Homo sapiens: one gene and its partners. The protein of the gene in region 1 purifies or fractionates together with the protein of each later gene. This does not show direct contact. Each region holds a gene or a part of one and is shown on either strand. Other genes may lie near its edges.

What was found.
Region 2: the proteins of ZNF317 (region 1) and MRPS18A purify together in Homo sapiens (affinity purification with mass spectrometry; 2 studies listed by BioGRID and IntAct, with this or other methods). This does not show direct contact.
Region 3: the proteins of ZNF317 (region 1) and CPNE2 purify together in Homo sapiens (affinity purification with mass spectrometry; one large-scale study listed by BioGRID and IntAct). This does not show direct contact.
Region 4: the proteins of ZNF317 (region 1) and GBP1 purify together in Homo sapiens (affinity purification with mass spectrometry; one large-scale study listed by BioGRID and IntAct). This does not show direct contact.

Annotation. Positions count from the first base shown.
Region 1 is NC_000019.10:9,153,811-9,157,396, forward strand, and holds part of ZNF317 (zinc finger protein 317), read left to right. Parts: intron 1-2,114; 5' UTR 2,115-2,206; coding exon 2,207-2,231; intron 2,232-2,801; coding exon 2,802-2,938; exon of another isoform or gene 2,939-3,457; coding exon 3,458-3,584; intron 3,585-3,586. UniProt on the Homo sapiens protein: May function as a transcription factor. May play an important role in erythroid maturation and lymphoid proliferation.
Region 2 is NC_000006.12:43,670,792-43,674,377, reverse strand, and holds the end of MRPS18A (large ribosomal subunit protein mL66 isoform 1 precursor), read left to right. Parts: intron 1-1,777; exon of another isoform or gene 1,778-2,471; coding exon 2,472-2,616; 3' UTR 2,617-3,176; downstream 3,177-3,586. Other genes in the region: RSPH9 (radial spoke head protein 9 homolog), read right to left, coding at 3,391-3,586.
Region 3 is NC_000016.10:57,116,497-57,120,082, reverse strand, and holds part of CPNE2 (copine-2), read right to left. Parts: intron 2,588-3,586; coding exon 2,516-2,587; intron 889-2,515; coding exon 805-888; intron 523-804; coding exon 433-522; intron 1-432.
Region 4 is NC_000001.11:89,058,709-89,062,294, forward strand, and holds part of GBP1 (guanylate-binding protein 1), read right to left. Parts: intron 1,617-3,586; coding exon 1,489-1,616; intron 719-1,488; coding exon 609-718; intron 336-608; coding exon 133-335; intron 1-132.

The DNA of each region.
Region 1 (3,586 bases):
GATTCACTGACACGGGAGTAAATTGTATTTTCTGTGAGGATGGGGATGATGGTAGTGGATGCTGGGTGTACTGAATTGGGAGATGGTGAATGTAGACTGCTCCTAAGTTTTTGCTCGGAAGGGGGCACTAAGGGGAGCCAGGGCAGGCATTGGTTTCAAGATGGGATAGACCTGAGCATGTGTCCATGCATAGGAAATTGTCTAGCAGGGCGAGAAATGAGGCTGAAAGTAAAGGAGAGCCAGGTAGTGCGAGGGTCCAGAGACGGGGATGGGCCTGGAGCAGATTTGAAAGGATTGCCTTGAGAAGGGAGGGCAGACATCTCTTTGTCATAGAAGGAAAGGAGGAGGTCATAGATCAGTTGTGAGAAGACTGTTTAAATAACTAGAAGCAAGAAGGTAAGAAAGCCTCATTTTTTTTCTTTCTTTTAAGCAGGGTTTAATATATGTTCAAGAAAATGCATAGGTCTTACTTAGGTGATCAGTTTGAATTTTTGACAATTGTGTACACTGTACATCTGAAAATAGGTAAGTTTCTATCATCCTAGAAAGTTCCCTTTGCTTCTTTCAGTCTATCCCTGTCTTATCCTCCATTGAAGAAACCCCCTTTTTTTTTTCAATTCTATCAACTTAATTACGTTTTGCCTATTCATGGACATTATATTGTTGGAATCAGAGCGTTTCTTGTGTGTCCAGTTTCTTTTGGCCAGCATCGTAGGGATTTCTCCATGTAGTGTGTCTGCATAGTTTCTTTTTATTGCTGAGTAGTATTCCATTCTGTAAACATTGCAATTTGTATATCCATTCTCTGGTTGATAGATGTTTAGATTGTTTACAGTATTTGGCTATTAGGAATCAGACTACTACAGACATTTTTGTACGAGTCTTTGTGGATATAAATTGTTTACAGTTTCTCTTATATAAATATCTAGGAGCAGAATTGTTGGATCAGATAGTCAGTGTGCTTGTTAAAAACTGCCAAAGTGTTTTCCAAAGTAGTTGAACTATTTCACACTCCTACCATCAGGATATGAGAGGTGCCAGTGTGCCCCAAACTCAGCAGCATTTAGTATTGGTAGTCTTTTTTATTTTGGCTGTTCTAGTTTTAATTTGCATTTCTCTAATGACTATGATATTCAACACCATTCGATGTGATTCTTACTGGTTTTGTGAAATGTCTGTTTATTAATTAAAGTCTTTTACCCTTTTTGTTGGGTTGATTTTCTTTCTTTCTTTCTGTTTTGAAGGAGTTCTTTTTATTTTTTCCAATAAGCCTTTTGCACTCCTATCTAGGAGTTCTTTAATCTGAATACGAATTCTTTTTCAGGTGTATGCATTGCAGATATTTTTTTCCCAATCCGTGGTTCACTGTTCATTTTCCTTTTTTCTTTTTCTTTTTTTGTTTTTAGAGACAGAATCTTACTCTATTGCCCAGGCTGGAGTGCATGATGGTAGCTCACTGCAGCTGTTCTCTATGAATTTTTAAGTTTCTGATTCATCTCAAAAGATGTTTAAATTCAAATTCAGTGAGTGGAGGAGGTGGCAGAAGCATAGGTGGCCGCGAATCTCTAAAGTGAGAGTTGATGTGAGAAGGTTGCACAGGAGACTTTGCCCAGAGAGCAGATTTCCAAATCATTGCCTGTGAGGTGAGGCTGATTCTAGTGATGATGCAGTCCAGGCCATGGCCCAAGGGTGTATATGTTGGTGTGGAGTGTGGGTGCAAAGGGCATTGGAGTTTGGAACTCATGGTTGATCCTGGGTGGACCATCTTCATGGATAGAGCCATCCTAAATGATCGCAGGCCTCGAAGGTGAAGGAAGAGCAGAAGTCTAGGACCAGAGTGTTTAATGAGTGAGGGGGTTTAACAGAGTTGTACTTGGTGGAAAATCACTTAGGAAGAGTAATTCTGAACCCACTTATAGCAGATCAGGGGCTGTCCCCCCACCACATCACCACATTGCTGAGAGAGTTTACCTAAGTAAGATAAAAGTCCAGGATCAGGCAGATCTTGCTGCTCAAAAGAGGAAATGCCAAAAAACAAAACTCAGAGTTTTCTTTGGTGAGCAGGAGAGACAGATAGCCTTTCACTACTCCCGATGTTCTTTCATTTGCTACAGATGCCAGCTTGGAGAGTCACGTGAGAGCAAGAGAGTAGCTTTCTGGTTGTCCTGGTGCCCTGCTCAGGCAAACTGACTGCCATTCTCTGAGGATGGCAGCTCTGTCCCCCACATTTGGTAAGTTCTTGGGTCAGTGCGTGCCCTGAGAAAGTGAGTGCAAGTGGCCCCTGCCACTTGATGGGGTGAAAGATACGTACACCATAGAGGGCTGCTGGGAGAGGATGGGCAAGTGGAAAAGGGGTGGGAACAGAGCCCCAGCAGCCACCCCAGTGACTGTGTCTGCTGAGGGTCTTGGTGGGTCTGGGAGCAGGCCAGTGTCCTTATCATTCATGCATGAAGAGGGTGCAGGTAATGGGTAACCCTGAGTTATCTCATTTATTATTTTGATCACTTTCAGCAAGGTCACAACTCTAGCTCTCAGAACTTGCATTTCTTCACTCCTAGGTTGGAACTATGTCACTTCTTATGAGTATGTAGCCCACCACCCTCTTTATGTTTTTGGTGGAACAGGGCTGCTCTGACTTGTTATGAAACTGATGTGTGCAAGAGAGGTGGGGGGAGGAAGAGAGAGAGAGGATTGAGGATGTGAACACTCAGAATCAGTGTGGAGCAGTTTCCTGGTTTACAAGTGTTGTATTATGAGACAGGGCAGGCTCTGATTCTCATGAACCCTGTTTTCTCCTCCAGCCACGTCCACCCAGGATTCCACCTGTCTCCAGGACTCAGAATTTCCTGTTTCTTCAAAAGACCATTCCTGTCCCCAGAATTTGGACCTGTTCGTGTGCAGTGGTCTGGAGCCTCACACACCCAGTGTTGGTTCCCAGGTGCACTAAGATCTCTGGGTCCCTAGAGCAGGAGAGGCACTTCCTGGAAGACCCCACCAGTGCATGCTGGAATTCTTGCAGAGCTTCATCTCAGCCAGTGGATGCCAGAACAGGGCCCAAGAGAGAGCCAAGGAATATTGGGGCTGTCCTGGTGTTGGGGAAGTTAGGGGAAGTGATTTATGTAGCATCTGTTTCCCTCATGCTTGCAAAATCTCAGGCCCTTGCTCAGCCCCAGAGACGGGGGGAAATAAAGGGCAAAGCTCTCGGAGTGGGCTAGAACTGGAGGGAGATTAGTCCCTTGTCAGGGTTGCATCTGAAGTGACGGCACAGGACAAGATGGCCTCAATGGGGAGAGAGGATGTCTGAGGACTGATGCCTGGAGGAAATGTTGAGCCCCGTAGCAGGCCATCTGGAAATCCTGTGTTGGGTCTCTCATGCCCGGTCTTCAACCTCAGCCATCTTACCATGAACATCGTTAGGCTGGTTCCTCGCTGACCCCAAGTTTGTGTGGCGTTCCAGGAATCGGTGACTTTCCAAGATGTCGCTGTGGACTTTACCGAGAAGGAGTGGCCCTTGCTGGATTCTTCTCAGAGAAAACTGTACAAAGATGTAATGCTGGAGAACTACAGCAACCTCACTTCACTGGGT
Region 2 (3,586 bases), on another chromosome or scaffold:
GTTGGTGCGGAAGTAATTGCAGTTTTTGTCCTTTTTTAATAGAATTGCTCTCTGTAAGGTATCAAAGATGACTGACGCAAAGCAAACACCTCAGCCCCCAGCAGACCTCCTAGGCTGATCCCCACCAGAACTCAGGCATGGAGGGTAGGGGGTGTGGGATGTGGGAATGCAGGGCTTCTTCCTGGTACCCTGCCTCTCTGTCCCTGGGGGCTAAGTCAGAGCTGGACCTTTACCAACACCATGCCAGCACCCTGGCTGTGTGCCCATCTCTACCTGTGCCCCCCACATTGCTAGCTCAGCCATCTGCCAGCAGCTCTTGGGGAGCAGGACATGCTAACCTCTTCCTATGTCCCCTAACTATGCTATGGACCATTTGGGGGTTGAGCCCACCCCCTCTGGCTTTTTAAGAGACAGCAGCAGGCCTGAGGACACAATCCATCCTGCCTCAGGCCTTTGAAGCTAGGCCAGGCGCCCTCCCATACATCCGGCATCCTTTAACGTGACACAGGATTGATGATGTGTGGGGGCTAGTCGGTTGCAAAAGGCCACGCTGAGCGGGAGGGGGAGTTCAGGCTACGAAGGAAATGGATTCCCTTGCAGGGGAGTCTCGTTTAATGCTGCCATGCATGGGCCCAGGCTCCGCTGGGGCCTGGCGGAGCCATGCTTTGTCTGCTGCTGTGTCGCTCCTCCTGCTGCCCCTTCAGGAGAGGTAGGAAGGGGCTGGTTTAGGAAAGAGACTTGGTTCTTGCTAGAGCTGGGGTGTTCCCAAAGAGCTGGCTGGAGGCCACCCGGCCCACCCCCTGCCAGCTGGCCGCTCCGTGTGGCGCAGGCATCAGGCCCAAGGCCAGCTAAAGCCCAGCTTCCCTCTCCAAGGCATGGGAGAAAGAACAGCTTTAGGGCAGTAGCTCTGGAGAACCTTTCCAGCTTTTCCTCTGCATCCCCAAATCTCAATGAGCACCCTTCTGGGGAGCCTGCTCCCATACCCCATCTCTTCATGTACCCCTCTGAAGCCTGGGAGAGGCCAGCAAAGGGGCCATCCCTGGTCCCCTCCCTTTACCTTACTCTTCTGTCACCTAGAACCACCGACCATAGAAAAAGCAGTCCCCTCACACCTGTAATCCCAGCAATTTGGGAGGCCGAGGCGGGCGGATCACTTGAGGTCAGGAGTTCAAGACCAGCCTGGCCAACATGAGGAAACCACGTCTCTACTAAAAATACAAAAATTAGCCATGCATTGTGGCGGGTGCCTGTAATCCAAGCTACTCCAGAGGCTGAGGCAGGAGAATTGCTTAAACCCAGGAGGCGGAAGTTGCAGTGAGCCGAGATCGCGCCACTGCACTCCAGCTTGGGCAACAGAGCAAGACTTCGCCTCAAAAAAAAAAAAAAAAAAAGCAGTCCCTATAACTAGCCTCCTTCACAGTCATCATCCTGGCCAGGGCAGTGACAATTCCAGGAGACACATGGAAGGCCCTCCCATCCCTGCCCAGCACACACTTGGAGTGCAGGCCAGCAACTCCCGCAGCTTCTGTCAACACAGGGCTGGCAGCAGAAGACCAAGGTCCAGCGGAGCTCAGTTGAACTGCATAAATCAGCAATCATTTTTTCACTTCTTTTATCTAAGAGTTTTTAGCTAAGGTTATTGAGTTTTTAAATAAAAAAGCTTTTTCTTTGATGGTCTCTAGAGACAGCTGGGTTGAGCCCCAACCTAGAATGGAGGCAGGGGAGGATTCCTGGCCTTTGTCATGGCTGAGCTTTCAGAATGAAGGATGGGCCTTTCTGGACAGGATCCAAGTTTTATTCTGGACAGAGTAAAACCCAATCCTAGCCGGCATGAGCCACTTTTCTGGGAACTATCAGGGCCCTGGCCATCCCCAAAGGAGGCCAAAGGTCCATGGGCGGCAGCCATCTTTCCCCACCCCCCTCCTATTTACAGGAACCTTCCTAGGCTAGGGCTGCGCCCACGGGCCCTTACCCCTTGATTCCCATCACAGGTTGGGTGAGGGGCAGGGGTCTTATACCAGTTATAGTACCCTGGGGAGTTCCCTGAAGGTTGGGGTAGCTGAGTGAGCCAAATGGGGAAGAGCAATGGGTTCCTCCAGAGCCTTACATCAGCTCTTCTCGCCCCATGGCTGAGGCCAGAGAGGAATGATCTGCTCTTCAGGCAGCCTCTTCGCCACCTTTTCCTCAGCAAACACACACCAACATTGACATTTACAAAGATCAAGGGAGCTTGTGGCCCTGGGCTGCCTGAACCTGGCCACACAGGCTTGCGGCAGCAAGAGCCCAGCCCATCTGTTTACAGGACGCTCAGCAGTTACTCCCAGGAAAATCCCTGCACTTCAGGAAAGGGAAACTGGTGAAAGGATTTGCTTGCCCAACCGTGGCCTGGCCTGAGGAGGTAGTGCTCCACTCTCCCACGTCCAGCTTGGGCCCCCAGCCCTCACAGGCACCTCTTTGTTCTCCCTCCACAGGTACCTGACGCGCTGGGCTCCTGGCTCCGTCAAGCCCATCTACAAAAAAGGCCCCCGCTGGAACAGGGTGCGCATGCCCGTGGGGTCACCCCTTCTGAGGGACAATGTCTGCTACTCAAGAACACCTTGGAAGCTGTATCACTGACAGAGAGCAGTGCTTCCAGAGTTCCTCCTGCACCTGTGCTGGGGAGTAGGAGGCCCACTCACAAGCCCTTGGCCACAACTATACTCCTGTCCCACCCCACCACGATGGCCTGGTCCCTCCAACATGCATGGACAGGGGACAGTGGGACTAACTTCAGTACCCTTGGCCTGCACAGTAGCAATGCTGGGAGCTAGAGGCAGGCAGGGCAGTTGGGTCCCTTGCCAGCTGCTATGGGGCTTAGGCCATGCTCAGTGCTGGGGACAGGAGTTTTGCCCAACGCAGTGTCATAAACTGGGTTCATGGGCTTACCCATTGGGTGTGCGCTCACTGCTTGGGAAGTGCAGGGGGTCCTGGGCACATTGCCAGCTGGGTGCTGAGCATTGAGTCACTGATCTCTTGTGATGGGGCCAATGAGTCAATTGAATTCATGGGCCAAACAGGTCCCATCCTCTTCATGACAGCTGTGAGCTCCTTACTGTGGGAGAGCTGCAGGGAGCCAAGGTGGGCTGCCTGACACACTTGCCGCTCTCGTGTGAATCCAAGAAACTGCGTTCCTCAAAGGGGCCCTGGTTGTCACCTTCTCCCACAGCCATTTCCACCCATCGTTGTCTAGAATCTCTTTCATTAGCACATTCCAACCCCTCTGCCACTTGGTTTAGAAATGAGCTCCCTGGCTCAGTGGGCCTTTCAGAATCTGGAACCAGACGGAGGTGGAGTTAAGAAGATAGGACAGAACAGGCAGGCCAAGTTCACTGAAGCTTAAGAAAATCATGTTTAGACTCTGTTTAAAAACATCCAGGCTGGCTCCCATTCTATAGCATGAAGGGCAAGTCCATGTTCTTCTCGCCAGTGCCCACGTAGACGTAGCCATAGTTCTTGGTGCGGGGAGCATGGTAGAAGGTGAGGCCCGGCCAGAGCAGGCTGCGCAGCACCACCAGGGCATTGCCCCTCTCCATCTGGATGCTCCAGG
Region 3 (3,586 bases), on another chromosome or scaffold:
CAGGCTGGTCTTGAACTCCTGACCTCCAGTGACCCACCTGCCTCAGCCTCCCAAAGTGCTGGGATTACAGGCATGAGACACTGCACTCAGCCAGAGGACTGAGAGCTTTTAGAGAGACTGGTAATCACTGTCCTCATCATGCCAAATTTGATAATTTCCAAGGTGTTTCCCTAGCTAGCAGCTCTGCAGCCCTCTGGGGAGGGCAAGAGAGTTTTAGAGAGGGGCTCAAAGGTGGGGGCCCTGCCCGGGTACTTCAGGGCATCAGATAGATCCAGGATGAGGACCCAGTCTCCAGTCCTCCCTCCTCCAAAGATGGGGGTTCGTTCCACTTGTATGAGAAAGAGCTTTCTACAAGGCATCCCCGGGAGCCTCAGGTAGACTGGGAGGCTGGAGCTGGCAAGGTGGGGAGCAGGGTCCCCAGAGCCCCCTCACCTGGATGGGCTTCTCCATGTCCCCATCACACAGGGACACCAAGGGCACTGTGAATGGCTTCCACACAGGGTCCAGTGTGTACTTGATCACCTGTGGGACAGAGAGGGATGCTGTGAGCTCAGGCCCTGGGCAGCAGTGCTCTGGGGTTGGGTCAGCCCAATGGGGACAGGGTGACAAAATGCAGACCCACAGCCACACTTCCAGAGACAGAAGTGAGCGTCCCTGTGGCTGGGAGGAAGCATATCCCTCAGGTGCCACTGTGGGTTTTCCTGCACACTGAGCGGCTGTGACCGCACCTCCCTTTTTCAGAGCTGTGGAGGGGCTGGACTGCAGGCCCACTGCTTAGAGATCCCTGGGCCCCCACGTACCCACCTCAGTCCTGTGGACCAGCATCCACTTGCCATCGTCTCCTGGCTTATAAAACTCCAGAAAGGGGTCTGACTTCCCAAAGAGGTCCTGGGAGAAGTGGGAGGATGCGGGTGAGAGAGGTACAGCCCTGCTAGGTTCAGGCAGATGGGGGTGTGGCCCTGCTGCCTCCCCAGCCGGGTGTCAGGATAGGAGCTGTGGGCAGAGCCAGCCTGGCCCCCTCCCCTCAGACTCTGCAAGGCTCAGCAAGAGGCCCAGGGCAGCTGCAGCCCCCTGGGATCAACCAGGTCCCCCAGCAGAAACCCCCCACCCTGAGGCTGTCAGAGCTTGTGCTCAGAGACCCTCCAAGACTCAGAGCCTGTGTGAGTCAGAACTCCGGCATTTTAGATGGGCCAGGACTTCAAGAGGGTGACTATTCCCAAGGTAGGGTGAGGCTCCCAGCAGGGTGTCATTTCAGTTTATTTTATTGGGAATGTGAAAAACTGAAACTATCCTGCACATGACATAAGGAATATCATGGCCTTTAAAAAATCATTTAAGGTTTAAAAAGTGCCACTTTTTGTATGTGACTCACTCTATCTATCTATCTATCTATCCATCCATCCATCCATCCATCCATCCATCCATCCATCCATCTATGGGGTCTCACTATATTGCCCAGGCTGGTCTCAAAATCCTGGCCTCAAGTGATCCTCCTGCTTCAGCTTCCCAAGTAGCTGGGATTACAGGTGTGAGCCGCTGCACCTGGCAACTGTTACTTTAAAGAGGTTATATTCAAGTTAGGGAGACAGAAAATAAGTAAAGAAGGTATGGGCCAGGCATGGTGGCTCAAGCCTGTAATCCCAGCACTTTGGGAGGCCGAGGTAGGCGGATCACAAGGTCAGGAGATCGAGACCATCCTGGCTATCATAGTGAAACCCCGTCTCTACTAAAAGTACAAAAAAAAAAAAAATTAGCTGGGCGTGGTGGCAGGCGCCTGTAGTCCCAGCTACTCGGGAGGCTGAGGCAGGAGAATGGCATGAACTCAGGAGGCGGAGCTTGCAGTGAGCTGAGATGACACCACTGTACTCCAGCCTGGGCAACAGAGCAGGACTCTGTCTCAAAAAAAAAAAAAAAAGAAAGAAAGTATGCTAGACAGTAATAGTGTTAAGGAGACGAGAAGGAGGGGGTGGGAAATTGAAGACCAATTTCAGGGAAGGCCTCGTTGAGGAGGTGATGTGGGAGCAAAGGCTTGATGGAGGTGAGAGGGTGCCGTGAGAAAATTCAAGGAAGAGAGCATCCCAGGCAGAGGGAACAGCAAGTGCAAAGCTCCTGAGGGAGGAGAGTGCCTCGTTTAATTCACGGACAAGGGGCTAGGTTTGGCTGAAGCAGAGTGAGGTGCGGGGAGGAGGGGTGAGGTCGGAGAGTCGGGGCACTGGGGACACATCAGGCAGGGCCCCATTGGGTAAGGACCTTGGAATGTACTTACACTAAGTGAGATGGGGATGCCCCAATGAGCAGGTTTCCAGGTGTGTTTTGAATACCCCTAAGGGATGGAACACTCACTACCTCAGAGGTGAAGGAGTCCTAATCTGGAGTGGCCAGGAGGGCCCCGTGCTGGACCAGTCCCTAGAATGTGATGGAGGTGGTGGCCCGAGGTCCCGGAATGAGGCCACACAGCCCTGGGGCTGGTGGGGGCTACTGTTCCCAATGGGAGCCCTTCCTCTGCCCGCCTTACCTTCTTGTCCAGCCTCCTGCCCGCCAGGCTTAGTGTGATGACGCGGTTGTCGGACAGCTCCTGGGCAGCGATCTGTAAGGCCGGGACATGAGGGGCTCCTCAGACTCCCCCAGCCTCCTGCCAGGCAGGATGGCACAGGGTGCCCCAGGAGCAATCCTCCAGGGCTAGGAGGGGGAAGGGAAGGGCAGTTCCAGGTGACCTTGGACAAATCTCTTGTCTTCCCCACACCTCAGTTTCCATCTTCTGGAAAATGCGGAAAATAACCCATCTGGAGATGAGGAGTCAGGAAGCGGATCTACGCAAATCCGCAGGGCCCATGGGGTGGTGGGCAGAGATGAAGCAAGGACCAGACACCGGGGGTGGTCTTGAGTCCCGGGGAGAGGTTCTGGCCCAGAGAGCAGCATGACCGGCCTTCTCCTGCCCCTGCGGCAGCCACAGAGAGCACAGCTTCCTCAGAACACCAAGGTGTCAGCATCACAGCCACTTCATTGTACAGCTAGGGAAACTGAGGCCCAGGGGAGAAACTGAGTCCCATCAGTTCACATTGGTCATCTGTCCTCCATGCATTCCCCATCAGCTATGGTTCCCTGACCCCAGCCCAGCCAGTGATGGCCTAGCTGGGCGACTTCGAGACTGCTGAGGCCCCCTGTAGGCCTCTCTCCCTCCCCTGCTGCCCACAGCAACACAAGTGGGCTGGGGCCTTTCGCTGGGGCCTCCTCTCCTCTCCTGCCTCTAGGATGGCCTCACCCAGCGCAAGGCATCTGGCCCTCTGGACCCACAGACAGAGGCCAGCCATGTTGCCCGTTCTCCCCTGCCGTCCTCCCACTGGGACTTGCTCAACAACCCTATAGGGTAGGTCCTATTATCACCCCCATTTCCCAGGGGACGGGATGGAGGCCTAGAGTGGAACTGCCAGAAATGCTGGGGTGATGGCATACCCGGGTGAGTGGGGTCTGTCTGAGATGGCTTCTAGGTGGAAGCTGCCTTGTGAAGGCATTCATTCATTCATTCATTCAGAGATGGGGTTTCACTCTCTTGCCCAGGCTGGAGGGCAGTAGCATGATCATAACC
Region 4 (3,586 bases), on another chromosome or scaffold:
TATTAATTTCTAGGAATAGCCAGCTGAAGACATAGAAAACTGCAAATGCTGGAAAACTAGCAATAGTAAACTGAAAAATGATAATTTCTTGTGTTTTCTCATCCTCATTTATCAGTTGAAGCTCTCTGTTACCTTTCTTCAGCTTCAGGGAGTATGTCAGGTACTCATCTGGTGTGAGGGGTTGTCCATCTGCTTCCAAGTCCAGGGAGAAATCTCTCAGTGTCCACACAAAGTCTGGGAAGAAGCTCACAAAGTCAGCTGAATCCTCAACCTCATTCTCATTCTCATCAGGTGAGGATTTTGATCGGATTCTATGTGTCAGCTCTGTCACATAGCTGAGTAGCTAACTAAGGAAATGTGACAAAATGAACAGGGACCTCATCCCATGTTAGTTCAACACATACCCAAACCTTCCATTTTCCTTTGCTCCTAACCTAAGTGTCAGTGTCAGTTCTAAAGTGGATACATGGGATCTCTCCTCTGTACTTGCATTATTTTTTGTTTTCTCCTTTTGAGCTTGATTCATCAGGATTCACAGTCAGGCAGCTGGTGTATGAATACAGGTGTCCCCTCTGACCTTGGTGCTGTTCTGGGTCACAAAAGGATACTACAGTTGGTCCATAGCCTGCTGGTTGATGGTTCCTATGCTATTGTACACGAAGGTGCTGCTCAGGAGGACGGCCAGGGCGAAGATCCAGGAGTCATTCTGGTTGTCACCCTGGAAGTCAAGACACACTGGAGTCAGGAGCAAGTTTCATCATCGCAGCACTTTTCAGAGTAACAGTAGTAAAACTATGTTCATATGTTAGAGGGTTTTTTTTTCTTTTCTTTTTTTTTTTTTTTTTTAACACTAATGACCTATTAAAGGAAGACAAATACAAAAATTATTCTCAGTAGGATGTGGCTTTTGGGTAGTTTTTCGACGAGTGTTTTTGGGTTACCATGATTCTTACTAGGTCTTCTAATGATCATCAACAGATAATTGTAAAATTAAAATTCAAGGTTGGTGGGCATTTTAAGGCCTGAGTACAATGTAAATTTAAAATTTTCTCTTCTTTTTTTCAATAACAGAATTCACATATAAGATTGGTACTATTAGTTGCTATTTTATTGAATAATTAATATACACCTGTAATGTATTATCTTATTAAATATTCAAAATAATACTATATGGCCAACATAGGTCTTTTCCATACATTTTAAAGATTAGAATGCTGAGGCGAAAATAAGTCAATTTTCTCAGGCTACTGAATTAGTGACAGAATTTAAATTTAAATACAAAGTCACATGGCTTTAGCACCCAAATTCTTAACTAAAGTTCTGTGCAGGATAAGACTTATGACACTGGGATTATTTGTGCTCCCTTTATGCATCTGTGTTAACCCACACATATTACAGCCTGTAGTTAATAGTTAATAAACAATTAACCGCTGCATAAAATATTCAGAGAGGAGGGGCTTACTCCACAACTGGATCCTTGAGTCTCACCTTCTCTACATCTCCCAGACCCTCGGTGTCCAGCAGAACTAGGATGTGGCCTGGCTTCTTGGGGTGGGGCACACACCACATCCAGATTCCTTTAGTGTGAGACTGCACCGTGGAGCCCAGAGAGAAGCCTGCAAGGGAGAGAGGAGACCAGCGATGGGGATTTAGTAACAGGCAGTTCTGGCAATTGAAGGAAAAAGTAGTATATTTAAGGTTAAGAGAGAGAACTGAAACAACAATCAGTATTCACCTTACGTACTTACAATCAAAGAAATAGGAAATTTGAATATCCAATGCATGGAAACATTCAGGAGGCTTTCATGATAAAAATAATCAACAAAGTAGAAATAGAAAGACAGCACCTCAACATAATAAATGCCATGTATTAAAAACCCACAGCTAACTTCACATTTAATGATGAAACGTCATAGCTTTTCCTATAACATCATGAACAAGAAAAGGATGCCTACTTTTGTCAATTGCATTCCACAGAACACTGCAAGTCCTATCCAGAGTAATTAGACAAGAGAAGCATAAAGGAGGCATCCTAATTGGTAATGAAAAAGTAAAATTATCTCTGTCTGCTGATGATAGTATCTAATTTGTAGAAAACATTAACTATCCCACAAAAAACTATTAGAACTATTAAAACAATTCATCAAAGTTGCAGCATGCAAAGTCAATATGGAGAAATCAGTTGCTAGTGTAAAAAATAGAAAAGGAAATTTTGGAAACAATCCAATTTAACAGCATCAAAAGAATAAACTACTTAGGAATCAGCTTAACCAAGCAGGTGGAAGACTTGTAGAGTGAAAACTTCAAACACCCTTTAAAGAAATTATAGATGACATAAGTTATTAGAAAGACATCCTGTGTTTATGGATTGGAAGACTTAATATTCTTAAGATGTCACTACTACCCAAAGTGATGTACAGGTTTGATATAATCCCTACCAACATTCCAATTACTTTGTATAAATAGAAAAATCCACCATAAATTTCATATGAAATTTCCAGAGATCCCCTAATTATAAAAATAAAAAGGAAGAGCAAAGTTGGAGTCTCACAGTTTCTGAGTTGTGAAACGTATTACAAAACCATGTGTGGTACTGGTATAAAGACTGACATATAAACCAATAGAATAGAAAAGACAGCCCATGAATAAACTCTGATATATATGGTCAAATGATTTCCAGTATGGGTGTCAAGATCATTTAATGAAGAAAGGAGAGTCTCTTTAACAAATGATGTTGAGGAAATGATATATCTCCTTAAAAAGTTGGGCTATTACCTTATAACTTACAAATATGAACTCAAAATGGATCAAAGAACCAAACATTAGAGTTGAAACTATAAAAGTTGTAGAAGAAAATAAAGGGTAAAAGTTTTATAATATTGGATTTGGAAATTATTTTTTGAATAAGAAACCAAAACTATAGACAATAAAAGAAAAAATAGATTAGTGGGACTTCAGCAAAATTTAAAACTTTTGTGTATTAACGGACACTATCAACAGAGTTAAAAAAGGCAACACACGGAATGTAAGAAAATGGTTTCTAAACATGTATATGATAAGGGATTGATATCTAGAAAATATAAAAAAATTTACAAAGCAACAGAAATAAACAACCAGATTAATAAATGAACAATGGACTTGAATAGACATTCTCCCAAAGAAGATATACAAGTGGCCAATAAGCACGTGAAAAGATGCTCAACATCACTAGTCATTACGGAAATCAAAATCAAAACCACAACGAGATACTACTTAACTTCCATTCGTATGGCCACTATAAAAAAAAAAAACCACTGAAAATAAAAAATGTTGGTGAGGATGTAGAGAAATTAGAACCCTTGTGCATTTCTGTTGAGAATGTAAAACGGTACAGTCACTGTGGAAAATGGTATAGTGATTTCTTAAAAAAAGTTAACATGCAATGACTGCATGAGCCAGCAATTCCCCTTCTGGGTATATTCCCAAAAGAAGTGAAAGCAGGGACTTGAACAGATATTCAGACACCCATGTTCCTATTAGCATTATTTATAATAGACAAAAGGTGGAAGAAATCCAAGTGTCCATTGACAGATGAAGAGATAAACAA